Regions from separate parts of the Homo sapiens genome. Here all the other regions are reported to be linked to region 3. Evidence: microRNA targets listed by miRTarBase, many of them from high-throughput screens and not tested one by one. Region 3 holds a microRNA gene; each other region holds the end of a gene's coding sequence.
What was found. Region 3 holds the annotated microRNA hsa-miR-4312 (GGCCUUGUUCCUGUCCCCA, at 2,974-2,992, shown strand). A microRNA usually pairs through its seed, bases 2 to 8, with sites in the 3' UTR of a target mRNA and lowers its output. Matches are read on the target gene's strand: a 7mer-m8 pairs with bases 2 to 8, a 7mer-A1 pairs with bases 2 to 7 and ends in A, and an 8mer does both.

Region 1 (4,199 bases), not on the chromosome of region 3:
CTGTTTGAATTTGAGTATGTTTTGTCTGGAGGCTAGTTGGAGATTTTTTTCTCCCTTCTAGCAACAAATTGGCTAAGTGGTCAACCTCTGTGGCTCACAGTTTTGTAAAAAAAGCATACAGAAAAGAAACTAGGCTGGGCACAGTGGCTCATGCCTGTGGTCCTAGCACTTTGGGAGGCCAAGGTGGGAGGCTCATTTGAGCCTGGGAGTTGGGAGGCTGTAGTGAGCAACGATTGCGCCACTACACTCCAGCCTAGGTGACCGAGCAAGACACTGTCTCTCTTAAAAAAGGAAGAAAAAAAAGTAAAAAAGAAAAAAATCTGGAATTTGGATATTATTCTGATAGTGTTAAGCTGGAATGGGAGGAGTGGTGGAGTTTAGGATTCTTGGTCAAGACTTTTTCAAGATCATAAGCACTAATCCACATTAGCTGTTGGTATAAGCAGCCTTCAAAAACACCACAAAGGGGAGTCAACAATTCGAGTGTAAACTGATGGCTCAGGGCCTTCTCTGCCCTTTACTAGCCTTCATGATCTGTCGGGTCTCAGCAGCTCAGGGCACAGGAGGAGGTGGGTCTCCTGACTGGCCTGTGCATTCTCCCAAACAAGATGTTTAAGACTCTTCTTTATCTCGTCACAAATACACAGCTTTGAAATACCATTAGTCTTTTTCTCTAGGATATAATTAGAAAAAGCCAGGCATGGAGATAGAAAAGACATAATTAGAAAAAGTATTGTATACATCTGCAAATTCTTCAACACTGGGTGATTTGAAATTTGACTTTAATATTTAAAAATAAATTTATTAATAATCTAAATTTTCAAGTCAAATTTTCTAAACTCAAAACATAAACAGAAGTGAACTTGTTATTTAATAAACAGATTTTTTCAACAGCTATATGGTTAAGATGTTCTTAACCATGCTCTCAGAAAAGGACAATCAGAAAGTAAGGCAGACACTTAGGCAACCCTTAGCGAGTATTTTGAAAGGACTGCACTGAAATTTGAACACAAAGTGTGCCAATGGAACACAAAATAGAAAATGGATCCAGACTTTTGCTGACTACAGAAGACATAGACATTAGTTCTTTTTTCTTCCTTATCAGTGTTTCTATTTATTAAAATATTTGTTATATTTACTACTACATAAATCAAGGTGTATCTGATGGCTGCTAAGATTATAAAGGCATGATTTTTATGCTTTTCAAAATCTCTCTACTTTTTAAAAAGAATTCTGTACCATTTAAAATACTGAGAACCAGTCTTGTATAGAGAGGTGTCGGACCAAGGGCAGCCAAGGATGAGTAAGATGGGCATCACCCTGATTGCAGCACCTCTTACGTGTCTGATGAATGTCCTCACTGAACCCCACTTACAATCTAGTTTTATCATTTTCAAAACTGCAAAATCATTTGCACAGCACCAATAAAAATATAGCCTAGAAATAATATTTTGAAAATAGAAAAATATGTTTTTAAAAAATGTCATAATAAATATCTCTCTAAATAATATCTTCATATCTCTATAAAAAACTTTCTTTGATTTTTCCCATAATATATAATGAACGGATCAGTTCACATGAAGACATAATGCAAGTCTTTACCACTTAAGTCCCTTGGTTAGGCTAAAATGTTCAGGTCAATGTTTTATTCTTAAAAATAAATCTTAAAAAATAAAAAGTATAACTCAGAACATTCTCTCTCTCAGAGTCTCTCTACATTCAAAATATAAAACAGGGTATCATTTTTTAAAAACTTCCAGAATCTCTTTGTTGGAATAGTATTGGATTAATGCAGAATACTCAATCCTTGAAATATAAAAAACAGCAACATAAGTTCTAATATTAACTATTCAAAATTTTCCAAACCTTTAAATTTGGATATTAAAATAATATAATTTCCTCCTTATTTTTGCCAACGTGAAAACACCTAGACCAAAGTCATTCTATTCTGACATATTGTCTTTCTTGGATATGACTTTGAAAGTAAGAATTGGGGAATTACTGGTTATACAGATTCTACATTTTTCTTCACTAATAGTGATTCCAAGAAAGTTTAGATCTTTCCACATGGAAACCGTCATGTAAGAACAGAAAAACTCTAAGGTTTATCTGCTGTGCTGCTCAACTGGATCCAGACCAGGTATTCTTATTTTAAAAGCTATATTTGATAGATGTTATATTCTACTCTTGCTTCAAAACAAATCACTTTCGACACAGTGGGGAAGAAAACAGTACCTACAGAGAGCTAAAATGGAAACCTAGTAGTCTGCATCAGTCATGGCAAGCAGCTGTCATGCTGCTACCCACCACCACTTCGGAAAACTGTTAGCCTCAGATAAGTCTGAATTTACATAGAAAAGGCTTCTCTGTTTCTGACCATATTACAATTCTCCTCTTTTTCTACATTTTGACTCCTGAAACCAGCAGATCTTAATATTCAATGAGTTAAGATAGCTCTTCTGTTAGGGTGCCCAACACAGTAAGTGTTAAACTTATTTTGAGTCTTTTATGTAGTGCTTGGGGGTGGTTCTGCAGCTCATCTAATATTAATGACAATTAACAATATATACTGCATAACGGCATTACATCCATTCACGTATCTCTGACTTAAATGCACTTGTTATTTCATTTATGACTGATACACTGAGAATTATGAATAAGCACATCACATGTTTAAATTGTAGTCTAACATTTTCCCAAAGCATGAACACCCACACTTTATACAATGCTGTAGGTAGTGTAATAGGGAAGATTTCCAGAACAGGAATTACAACTATCTTGACAAAATCTATAGGGTTTAAGTTATATTCATGTACTGTCTCTCAAACTAAAAAAACCAAACCATAGAGCCCAAATCTATTGAGCCTCTTGATCACAGATTTTTACACTTGAATCCTAAAATGATACTCCGATGTATATAATGCTGTTTTCTCCGCTGGGGTGTTCTGAAAGAAAAAGCAGGCTTTTCATTATGATGTGCAGTGACCACAGAAGCCAGGTGCTTCCAAGGCACACAGTGGCACAGTGCCTGGAGACTGCCATGTAGATGTTCCCCTTTGGTGGCTGGTACAGGATGGCGGTGGGTCCTTCCAGAGAAGAAACCAGCATTGGCTTTCCTCTTGATAGTTGAGGTTCATTTTCTATTAAGTGCTTGAATAAAATGCCTTGATACATCAACTACTCACATCTTAAATCCACAAGGAAATGTTTTCACCGACTTGACTTCTAGCGTTTGATCACAACTTGTTCATAAGCTCCAGACCCCACCCTAAAACAGCAGTGGAAAAAAACTTCAAAATTTTGAGCTGCAGTGTTTGAAACTGTTCCAAGTAACCTTACCCCTGGAGAGATGGGGCACTGGGTATTTTTCTACTAGATTTGATTTCCATAACGTTTAAAGGCATCACGGATAGAAACTATGTGAAATATTAAATGTTTATCATTAATACATTGGATTAGCCTAGATCCTGATTCTCTCACACTTATTCCCACAATAATCTATTAGAATTCCCCAATTCTTGACCTATCGACAAATGGTGGCAAGAAATGCTCTTCAAACATGTTTATCTATTCATTCTAAAATAGGTCTCATCCAAGAGCATATGTTGACTCTGGCAGTGCATCAGGACTTGCACTGAGTTAATGATGATGGTCTTCAGCTGTCATAATATTGTGGCGTTTTCATGGCAGGGTCTCATTCTGTTGCCCAGATGGAAGTGCAGTGGCATGACTGAAGCTCACTGCAACCAGAACTCCTGGGCTCAAGCAATCCTCCTAACTCAGCCTTCCAAAGTGCTGGATTACAGGCATGAGCCACCACGCCTGGCCCATTACTGCCTGAAGTTATCACCAGGTACCCATTTCCCAATTTGTCAAGATGTTAGGGTATACCCTACTACTTGTCATTTTACCATGAGTGTGCCTGAGTTTAGTAAGCCCAGAAGCAACCACCATGACTAGTGTCTCTCCTTAATGGCATTTTAAGAGGAAATTCTAAACAACAGAAGTAAGGTAGTGATTACTAGCCCACCATGGACTTGGCTGGACTTCTCAGTTGATTGCCCAGAAACTCCTGTTCTCACAGATTCATTCTACAGAAGAAATAGGAACTTCCTCAACAGAATGCCAGTGAGCACCCATTCATCCTACAGAAAATCAGAATTTGAAGAAACCATGGTGGGCAGCATGGCACACTGGCT
Region 2 (4,220 bases), not on the chromosome of region 3:
TCCCATTTCATGAAAGGCGCCATCATCCAGCTGGCTACGGGAGAGCTGAAGCGGGTGGAGGACCTCCAGACCCAGGATTTTGTGCGCAGTGCCGAAGTGAGCGGGGGGCTGAAGATTGACTCTAGCACGGTCGTGGACATTCAGGAGAGCCAATGGCCTGGATTTGTCATGCTGCATTTTGTGGTTGGTGAGCAGCAGAGCAAAGTGAGCATCGAAGTGCCCCCCGAGCACCCCTTCTTTGTATATGGCCAGGGTTGGTCCTCTTGCAGCCCTGGGCGGACGACACAACTCTTCTCTCTGCCCTGCCATCGGCTACAGGTGGGAGATGTCTGCATCTCTATCAGTTTACAGAGCTTGAACAGTAACTCAGTTTCTCAGGCCAGCTGTGCTCCCCCAAGCCAGCTGGGTCCCCCCCGAGAAAGGCCTGAGAGGACGGTCTTGGGATCCAGAGAGCTATGTGACAGTGAGGGGAAGAGCCAGCCGGCAGGAGAGGGCTCCCGTGTGGTAGAGCCTTCCCAGCCTGAGTCCGGTGCTCAGGCCTGCTGGCCAGCCCCGAGCTTCCAAAGATACAGCATGCAAGGGGAGGAGGCACGGGCTGCGCTGCTCCGTCCCTCTTTCATTCCACAGGAGGTAAAGCTGTCCATTGAAGGGCGTTCCAATGCGGGAAAATGAACCTCTTCCCCAGACCAGGACTGGGGCTTTACCCCAGAGCCTCGCCTCGCCGCCGTGAGCAGGCAGAGGATTTGCACACGCCGAGCAGGGAATGGCTTTCTTGGCAGTGAGATTTGGGGGAAAGGGGAGGCATGAAGTCAGCCTCCCAAGGCAGGATCTGTTGTTCATTACCCCATGGCATCCTTTCAGGACAACCCCAGAGGGTGTTGTGATGGGGAGCAGCAGGCCTGGGGCAAGGAAGGAAGGGGGTGCACACAGGAGAAGAAACATTCCAAAATCAGGGCCTCCCTGTTCTTTCCTCCCCATCCCTAGCTCCTGCAAGAGAAAGTCCAGGCTTTGGGAGCAGATGGCAGAGGGAGGGAGTAAAGAAAGAGCCAAAAATGATGATCCACAGCTTATAGTAGCAGTTAAACTGTCAGAAGTTTTTTTTCTTTTTTGTGGTAGAAGGGCAGGAGGCCCCAAGGTTGGAAATAAGAGGGTTCCCACCCAGAACCCTTCTTGTGAGAGATGCGCACTTTAAAGGGTGATTTTGTTCCAGATGTCTATGGCTGGGTGTGTGGGGGAGGAGCACTCTCATCTGCAGGACTCTGCTTGATCCTCTGCTTCATAGCCCTTCCCCATCTCTCCTCACCATTCTGCCTACAAGGCTTCTAGCAGCACGGGGGCCCGGAGGGAGAGCCCCTTCAGGGTTCAGAGTGAAGTACTACCTTGCCAGGGACTCAGTCAGGGGACTTTGGGAGAAAGACTTGATAGCCAGGCTGACTGGGTTCTAGGCAGGCCCTCTGGAAAGGTAGCTCACCTAACAAAGCTCCTCCATCTCAGCATGCCAGACCCACTTTGAAATCTCACAGAATCTTGCTGGTAATGGTGACTTTAGAACTAGTAGACCCTTTTTCCCAGGCACTGACCCCCCACCTTTGTCTGTGTTGTGCCCAAGTGCCTGCGCCACCCCCACCCTCCTGCTGCGCTGACCGCTGCATGGTGTCGTGACCTGGGCCTCATTTGTAGCTGCACTGCCTTTCCTTGTCTGCAAAGTTGGTTTTGTCCACTCTGACCAAGACCTCTAGTTTTTGGTGGGTAGGGGGTCTCTCTGGTTTCCCCTTCAGCTATAATCTCTATTTTTAAAATCTCAAAATCATGTCCCCTCCACTTCCACTGCCAAACAGCTTGGTGAAGAAACAAGAAGGGAACTATGCCCTGGGCCAGGGCGAATGCGTGGCTGGGCAGTGCCCATCATGGCATTTTCACATGTCCCATATGCCCCTCCTGTCTTATTCCACTGCTTCTCCCAGCATTCTGGTGCCTCCAAGCCATCCCCTCCCACCACCAGCTCTAAGATTCTAGGATAGTCTTGATAACATTTCAGTACCTGAATAGATGTCATTTTGTGTTGGTATATTCCTCTGCAAAAAGTATTTTCAATCTTGGTTGCATTGGCACCCCCCCTACCCCCCACCAATGTCTTAATCCCACATTTTCTTCACAACTTTTAGCATCAGCTCAGACCGTGGGGTTCCACTGGGTATTGGGAATTAGGCTCCCCCACTAGCTTTCAGGTGGGTAAGTTTTTTTGTTTGTTTTTTGGGGGTCTTTAGACTCTTGAAGGCAACTCAGGGTATTGTCCACGCAGCTCTCTGGTTAGACTTCTCCCAGGCTATGATCCTGGCATGTCCTTTATAAGGTATACTTGGATTGGCCGAGACCTGGCCTGGCATCAGGAGTCCAAACCTCTGAGGTCTGATCTCTGCTCTGTCAAGGACTTTCGGCAAGTCTCGTGACCTCTGGCTCTTTCACTTCCTCCCCACCTGCCAAATGGGGATAAATAATCTTACCTACCTCCTGGGGGGAGGGGAAGTTCTGAGAATGGAGTCATTCTTAGTGTTCAGGTGCTAAAGGTTGTTCTCCTGGGGGAACAGAGTGACTGAAACTGGCTTGTTTGCTACAAGCCCTACCCTCCACTCTTTCATTCCTTGAAAGCAGTTTGCCTGGTCAGTCAGCTTTTGGGGGTCCATCAAAGGAGGTTGCTGACCTGACCGTGAGTGCTTCAGTATCTGGTTTGTGTCAGAACCAGACGCCAACTTTGTACTGCATTTGGGATCATATCTTTCCCCTTCTCTGTCCCCCATTCTCTGAATGCTGCTTTCTCTGGCTTGTTTCCTACAGTGGGGGCCTGTGGGGTTGAGTCTTGAGGAATCCCCTCAAATGAGAAGGCCTTGGGAGAAGGCCTCATCTCTGGCTGTTTCATGAGCAACTCATTCCTAGAGTTCATTGTTTGCATGGGTTTCTCACAAGCGTCCTTCCTCATAGGAAGGCTCATCAACTGAATTTAGTGACATGTACACAGTAGATGCTCAAGCAGTGTCTGCAAGGACACAAGCTGAGCTTTCTCCTTATGGGGCAAACCTATGTCTAACCAGATACAGACCAATTAGTTTAGATCAAATCACCTTCCACTTGGGCTACTTGTGACTTTCCAACCTGGTAACTTCCACTGAATTCTGGAAAGAGAAATTCTTGAGGACCCTGGCAAGTTGGGCCCTGACCTTTCTGTTGCTGTCTCTTGCTGGTGAAGCAATACCAGCAGTTCCTGTAATACCACAATATCGTTCCATGCATATATAACATATTAATACTTGATTTTGCTGAGCTGCAAAGGTATCTGTCATAAAATATGGTCCCCAGGAAAAGAATCTCTGTGCTCTAAATCTCGGTCAGAGCTGTGGCCTCCCCCTTGCCTTTAACCTCTAGTTTAGTCTTTTCCTCCAGGCATGAAAAATATGACTAACCTGTGGTGTGTCCATTCTTCCTTATAGGAATTTCCTGAGTTTGCAGGAGACATGAGAGCAGTTTTTAGCGAGTATTTTAGTGGGAAGTTGCCAACTTTTTAAGAATGAGCAGTTGACAAGGGCCAGAGCCTGTCCCTTGTCAGCAGTAGGACATTTCCAGCTCTTAGGAATAGAAAGGAGGACTGCTGACTGTCTGGCGCTGTATAAAAATGTGTATACCAATTTGGGAATAGGGGAACCCAGTCATGGATGGATAATAAGCCAAGTCTTGAATCATTCCTATCAAGATTAGTATACATGAGGAAGAGGTGGCATGGGGGGAAGGGGCTCTGGGAGTTCAGAGCTGAGTACTTGTACCTGAGGGAGGGCCCCCAGCCAATCTGGGCTGGTCCTTCTATATTCTTGGTCCCAGTTGGTCATAACACCAAGGGCTTTGCCCTGCGCTGCTTTGCCACTGCTGCTGTCCGCTCACTGTCCTGCCTGCTGTCCTCTACAGCTCCCTATCCTTCCATGTCTTTGGCCATGTAGATTAAGTGTAGGCGTCCGGTTCATTCTTACCTGTGTTAGGCCATGTTATTTTATAGCGAAGTCATGTTCGATAGGGATGGTATGAAATGCTGCTGGTGGGCTGGTAAATCCAAAGGGATAAGGCTTCAGTGCTGTTGGGAGCCCTCTGGCTCCAAATGTCTGACTATCTTGAGGGAGAAACAAGCAGGTTTCTACTAGTGGTGTCTTCTGTTGTATTAACTTCTTTCCTTTGTG
Region 3 (4,241 bases):
TGCCCACTGTTTTTCTTGAAGCTTCTCAAAGGCAGACACAGCCGCGTGCAGCGGCTCACGCCTACAATCTCAGCACGTTGGGAGGTCGAGGCAGGTGGATCACGAGGCCAGGAGATCGAGACCATCCTGGCCAACATGGTGAAACCCCATCTCTACAAAAATACAAAAATTAATTGGGCGTGGTGGTGGGCGCCTGTAATCCCAGCTACTCAGGAGGCTGAGGCAGGAGAATCAGAGGTTGCAGTGAACCGAGATTGTGCCACTACACTCCAGCCTGGCCACAGAGCGAGACTCAGAAAACAAGGGAAGACACTAGATTTTCATTTTTGTACTAAATAGAAAAAGTAATATCTTTTTAAAAATGTGTTTTGTTTGTTTTTAACTGTTTGTTCATGCCAATGTGCCAGGCACCATATTTATTCTTTAATCTATACAGAAATGCTGCTGGATGAATGGAATTATGCTCACTCTGCCAATGAGGGAACCAAGGCTCAGAAAGGTTAAGTAACCAACCTAAGGTCAGGTAGTACTGAGGAGCTGTGCTTGGATACAAAACCAGGTCATCCAACCTGGAATCTTAGCTTTGACCCCCAACCTTCTCCCGGCAACTTTGATGATAATATGGAAATACCTTAGACTCTTGACTTGACTTTACTTTCTCTTCTCTGTTATAAAATCTGCTACATTTCTTTTCCTGGGAAAGCGAAATAGATTATGCCAAAAGTTCTGATTTTTAAAAATGTTTTATTGTGGGCCGGGCGCAGTGGCTCATGCCTGTAATCCCAGGACTTTGGGAGGCCGAGGTGGGTGGATCATGAAGTCAGGAGATCAAGACCATCCTGGCCAACACAGTGAAACCCCATGTCTACTAAAAATACAAAAATTAACTGGGCTTGGTGGTGCACGCCTGTAATCCCAGCTACTCAGGAGGCTGAGGCAGGAGAATCCCTTGAACCTGGGAGGCGGAGGTTGTAGTGAGCCGAGATTGTGCCACTGCACTCCAGCCTGGCAACAGAGCAAGACTCCGTCTCAAAAAAAAAAAAAAAAAAAAAAGTTTGTGAAATAGAGCACATAAAACCAAACAATATGTGTGAGATTTAATGATTTTTGTCCTATTTTTTTTCTATTTATTATTTAATACTTTCAGGGGTATCCTAGTAAAAGCGACTTTCCATGTGCCTGCCTGTGCCTTTCTGTGCCAGGGTCTTAAGAAATGTGTGTGGGTTTCCTCTGTGGCTCTGACACTCCATCAAACACCAGGGCTTGTGCACGCAGGTGAGAAGCATACCCAGGTGCCTCAGAGATATTGAAGAGGGTCTGGAATGTGGGAGAGAGGCAAATGGCTTTCCAATAAAAGTAGGCTAAGACATAATTAGGGGCTTAGGTGCTGCTTTAAAAAATAAGTAGCAGTGTATTCCAGACTCCTCTAAGAAAAGAGAATTGCTCATTGTGGAACAGGCATGGCAATGCAGTGCCTTTGCCTGGAACACCTTGCTGCTGCCATCACTAAGACCCATTCTGGGACAAGAGGAGGCTTACCCCTTATTGAGTATCTGCCATGAGCTTTGTGTGGTCCTTGCTTGCTAGGTACTTGGCAAGCATTATCTTTTTTACCTTTTAAAACACCCCTGAGGTGTAGGTAAGGCCACCCATTTCCTGACAGAGATTGGCCTACAAAGGTCAGATGGCTTCCGGGGCACACTGAGCGGCCCTTGTGTGTCGGAATGTTCCCTTCTGTTTGTCCCTTCCAGGCTGGACACTTTGGGAGCAGAAGTCAAAGACACCTTTATCATTGTACCCTCAGCACCTGGTGTAGTGCCTGGGATTTAGTAGTTCTGAGGAGCGTGTATTGAATGAATGGAGGTTAAGTAACTTAGACATTAGATAGTAGGACTCTGGGCTGGGCACAATGGCTCACGTCTGTAATCCCAGCACTTTGGGAGGCCAAGGTGGGTGGATCACCTGAGGTCAGGAGTTCGAGACCAGCCTGACCAACATGGTGAAACCCCGTCTCTACCAAAAATATAAAAAATTAGCCGGGCATGATGGCACATACCTGTAATCCCAGCTACTTGGGAGGCTGAGGCAGGAGAATCACTTGAACCTGGGAGGTGGAAGTTGCGCTGAGCCGAGATGGCGTCACTGCCCGCCAGCCTGGGCGAGAAGAACAAAATTCCGTCTCAAATAAATAAATAAGATAATAGGACTCTGAGGCTGTATGACTGCCACCCTGTAGGTCAGAAATGGGATCTGATTCCAGCTCTTATCCGTAAGCTAGGTGAATGCAAACTGACATGCCCAAGCTTATTGATATTGCAAAATTATTTATTACACAAAAGATTGGAAGCAACCCAGATACTCATCAATAAGAGACTGGTTAAGAAAAATGATGACACACTATGTAGTTGCAAAGAAGAAACGAAGAGGGTTTTTATGTACTCTTACACAAACTCCATGAAAAAAAGGCAAGGCAATGATTAGTATAATATGCTAGGTTTTTAATAAAAGAGAGAAGAAATAAGATTCTGAATTTGCTTGTATGTGTGTGAACATTCTAGAGAGATGCTTAGCAGGTGGTATAGTTGACTGGGCAGACAGAGGATAAGATAGGAGGGAGAGTTAACTGTATATCTTATATATTTTGGTTTTAAAACCATGAGAATGAATGTGTTAGTCAAAAAATTGAAAAGGAGAAAAAAAAAGAGGTGACCTTGAACCAGCGAGTCCACTGACCTGTGTGTTAGCCTCCCTATCCGTATGGTGAGGCAGTTGGACCAGATTGAGACTCCTTAGTCTGAAGTGGAATGTTGTGAATATTGTATTTCTCAGGCTTTCATGGACTTTTCCAGGAGATCCTGACCTTGTGCTAGGGTAATCTGCAGTCCCTTCCGTTGGTAGCCTGGCCTGGCCCTCTCAGGATGTTTGAGAAAGGTTGGGGGCACAGAGAGCAAGGAGCCTTCCCCAGAGGAGTCAGGCCTTGTTCCTGTCCCCATTCCTCAGAGTTTATCCTCTGAGCACACACCTCTGGTGTGACTCAGTTGGTTCTTCCTCCAAAGTGAAGGATTACAGTGAAGAGAGACTGTTCTGGAGCATTCTGGCAAAGTGCTACAGTTTAATAGGAAGGAAAAAAATGGCAGAACATTTTCCGGGTTATTTTTAATGCTTTTCAGTTCTGCAAACATTTATTGAAAGCTAAGTGCAAGGCAGTGTGGGGGAATCAGTTGCATAATACCTCACCTCTGCTTTCTGGGGTGCAAAGTCTTGGGTAAGAAACATGCTTATAAAATTTATCATAGTAACCTCTAGGACAGCCTGGCTTACCCATGATCTCATTGGGTCCCATGGAGACAGGTGGGATTGGTAGGGACTCGTCCCATTTTACAGGTGAAGAAACTGAATCTCAGTGAAGTCTTGTCCAAAGCCACACAGTTTGTAAGCAGTAAAGCCTGAAACCAAACCAGATCTTCCGACTACTTCTCATGTGTCCAAACCCCCATAATCAAAACATTCTCCCATAGGAGATGTCCGGGGTGTAGATTAGGCCCATTTCTACCTGGAAACATGGGGCAAGCACAATCCTGATTAAAGCTTCTTCTCCTTCACTTTTTTCCTTTGCTTTTTTTTTTTTTTTTCTTCTTCTTCTTCCTTTAAGGCAGAGCAAGGTAACTCTTAGGCTTATGGCCAGATCTCAGGTCTTAACTACTTTCCTGTGGTCTAAGCAATTCTTCTTGCATTGCCTGTGAAACCCACTATCCTACCACCAGTTGCATGTGGAATGTCCCCTGTGGGTAAAGGTGTGTAACCTACAGCAGCCTTCTCTCCACCCCAATCTCATGCTGCCACCTCCTTTCTTCCCTTCCACAAATTCTCTCGTACCCACCTGGCTTCCTAGCTGTTCCCCAATAAGGCCAAGCATGCCACCCACTCAGGATCTTTGCCCTGGCTTTTCCTTCTTTCTGTCTGGAAGGCCCTCCTAGTTGTTGACTTGGCCTTACGTCTCTGCTGAAAGCTCACTTTGGATAGGCCTTCCTGGTTACCCTCTCTAAAGTAGTGTCCCTTGTCACTATTGCTTTTCTGTCCTTTTCTTTTCTTTCTTTTTTTTTTTTTTGAGACGGAGTCTCGCTGTGTCGCCCAGGCTGGAGCGCAGTGGCGGGATCTCGGCTCACTGCAAGCTCCGCCTCCCTGGTTCACGCCATTCTCCTGCCTCAGCCTCCGGAGTAGCTGGGACTACAGGTGCCCGC

Region 1: miRTarBase lists EEIG2 as a target of hsa-miR-4312. Seed matches in the 3' UTR shown: 7mer-A1 at 3,162-3,168.
Region 2: miRTarBase lists ATXN1L as a target of hsa-miR-4312. Seed matches in the 3' UTR shown: 7mer-A1 at 819-825 and 7mer-m8 at 1,314-1,320.

The regions. Positions count from the first base shown.
Region 1 is chr1:108,634,177-108,638,375 of GRCh38, reverse strand. It overlaps EEIG2 (EEIG family member 2), which reads right to left. Exons shown (of 11, transcript NM_001010883.3): 11 at 1-3,268. The coding sequence ends at 3,226. Among named protein-coding and RNA genes, the nearest start is that of HENMT1, 25 kb to the left of the region's middle.
Region 2 is chr16:71,851,139-71,855,358 of GRCh38, forward strand. It overlaps ATXN1L (ataxin 1 like), which reads left to right. Exons shown (of 3, transcript NM_001137675.4): 3 at 1-4,220. The coding sequence ends at 672. Among named protein-coding and RNA genes, the nearest start is that of ATXN1L, 7.3 kb to the left of the region's middle. RefSeq lists enhancers at 1-341, 2,161-2,300.
Region 3 is chr15:68,800,611-68,804,851 of GRCh38, reverse strand. It overlaps MIR4312 (microRNA 4312), which reads left to right and starts at 2,927; the gene lies at 2,927-3,002. The region is part of intron 1 of ANP32A (acidic nuclear phosphoprotein 32 family member A); the gene reads left to right. It overlaps ANP32A-IT1 (ANP32A intronic transcript 1), which reads left to right. Exons shown (of 1, transcript NR_026808.1): 1 at 1-1,031.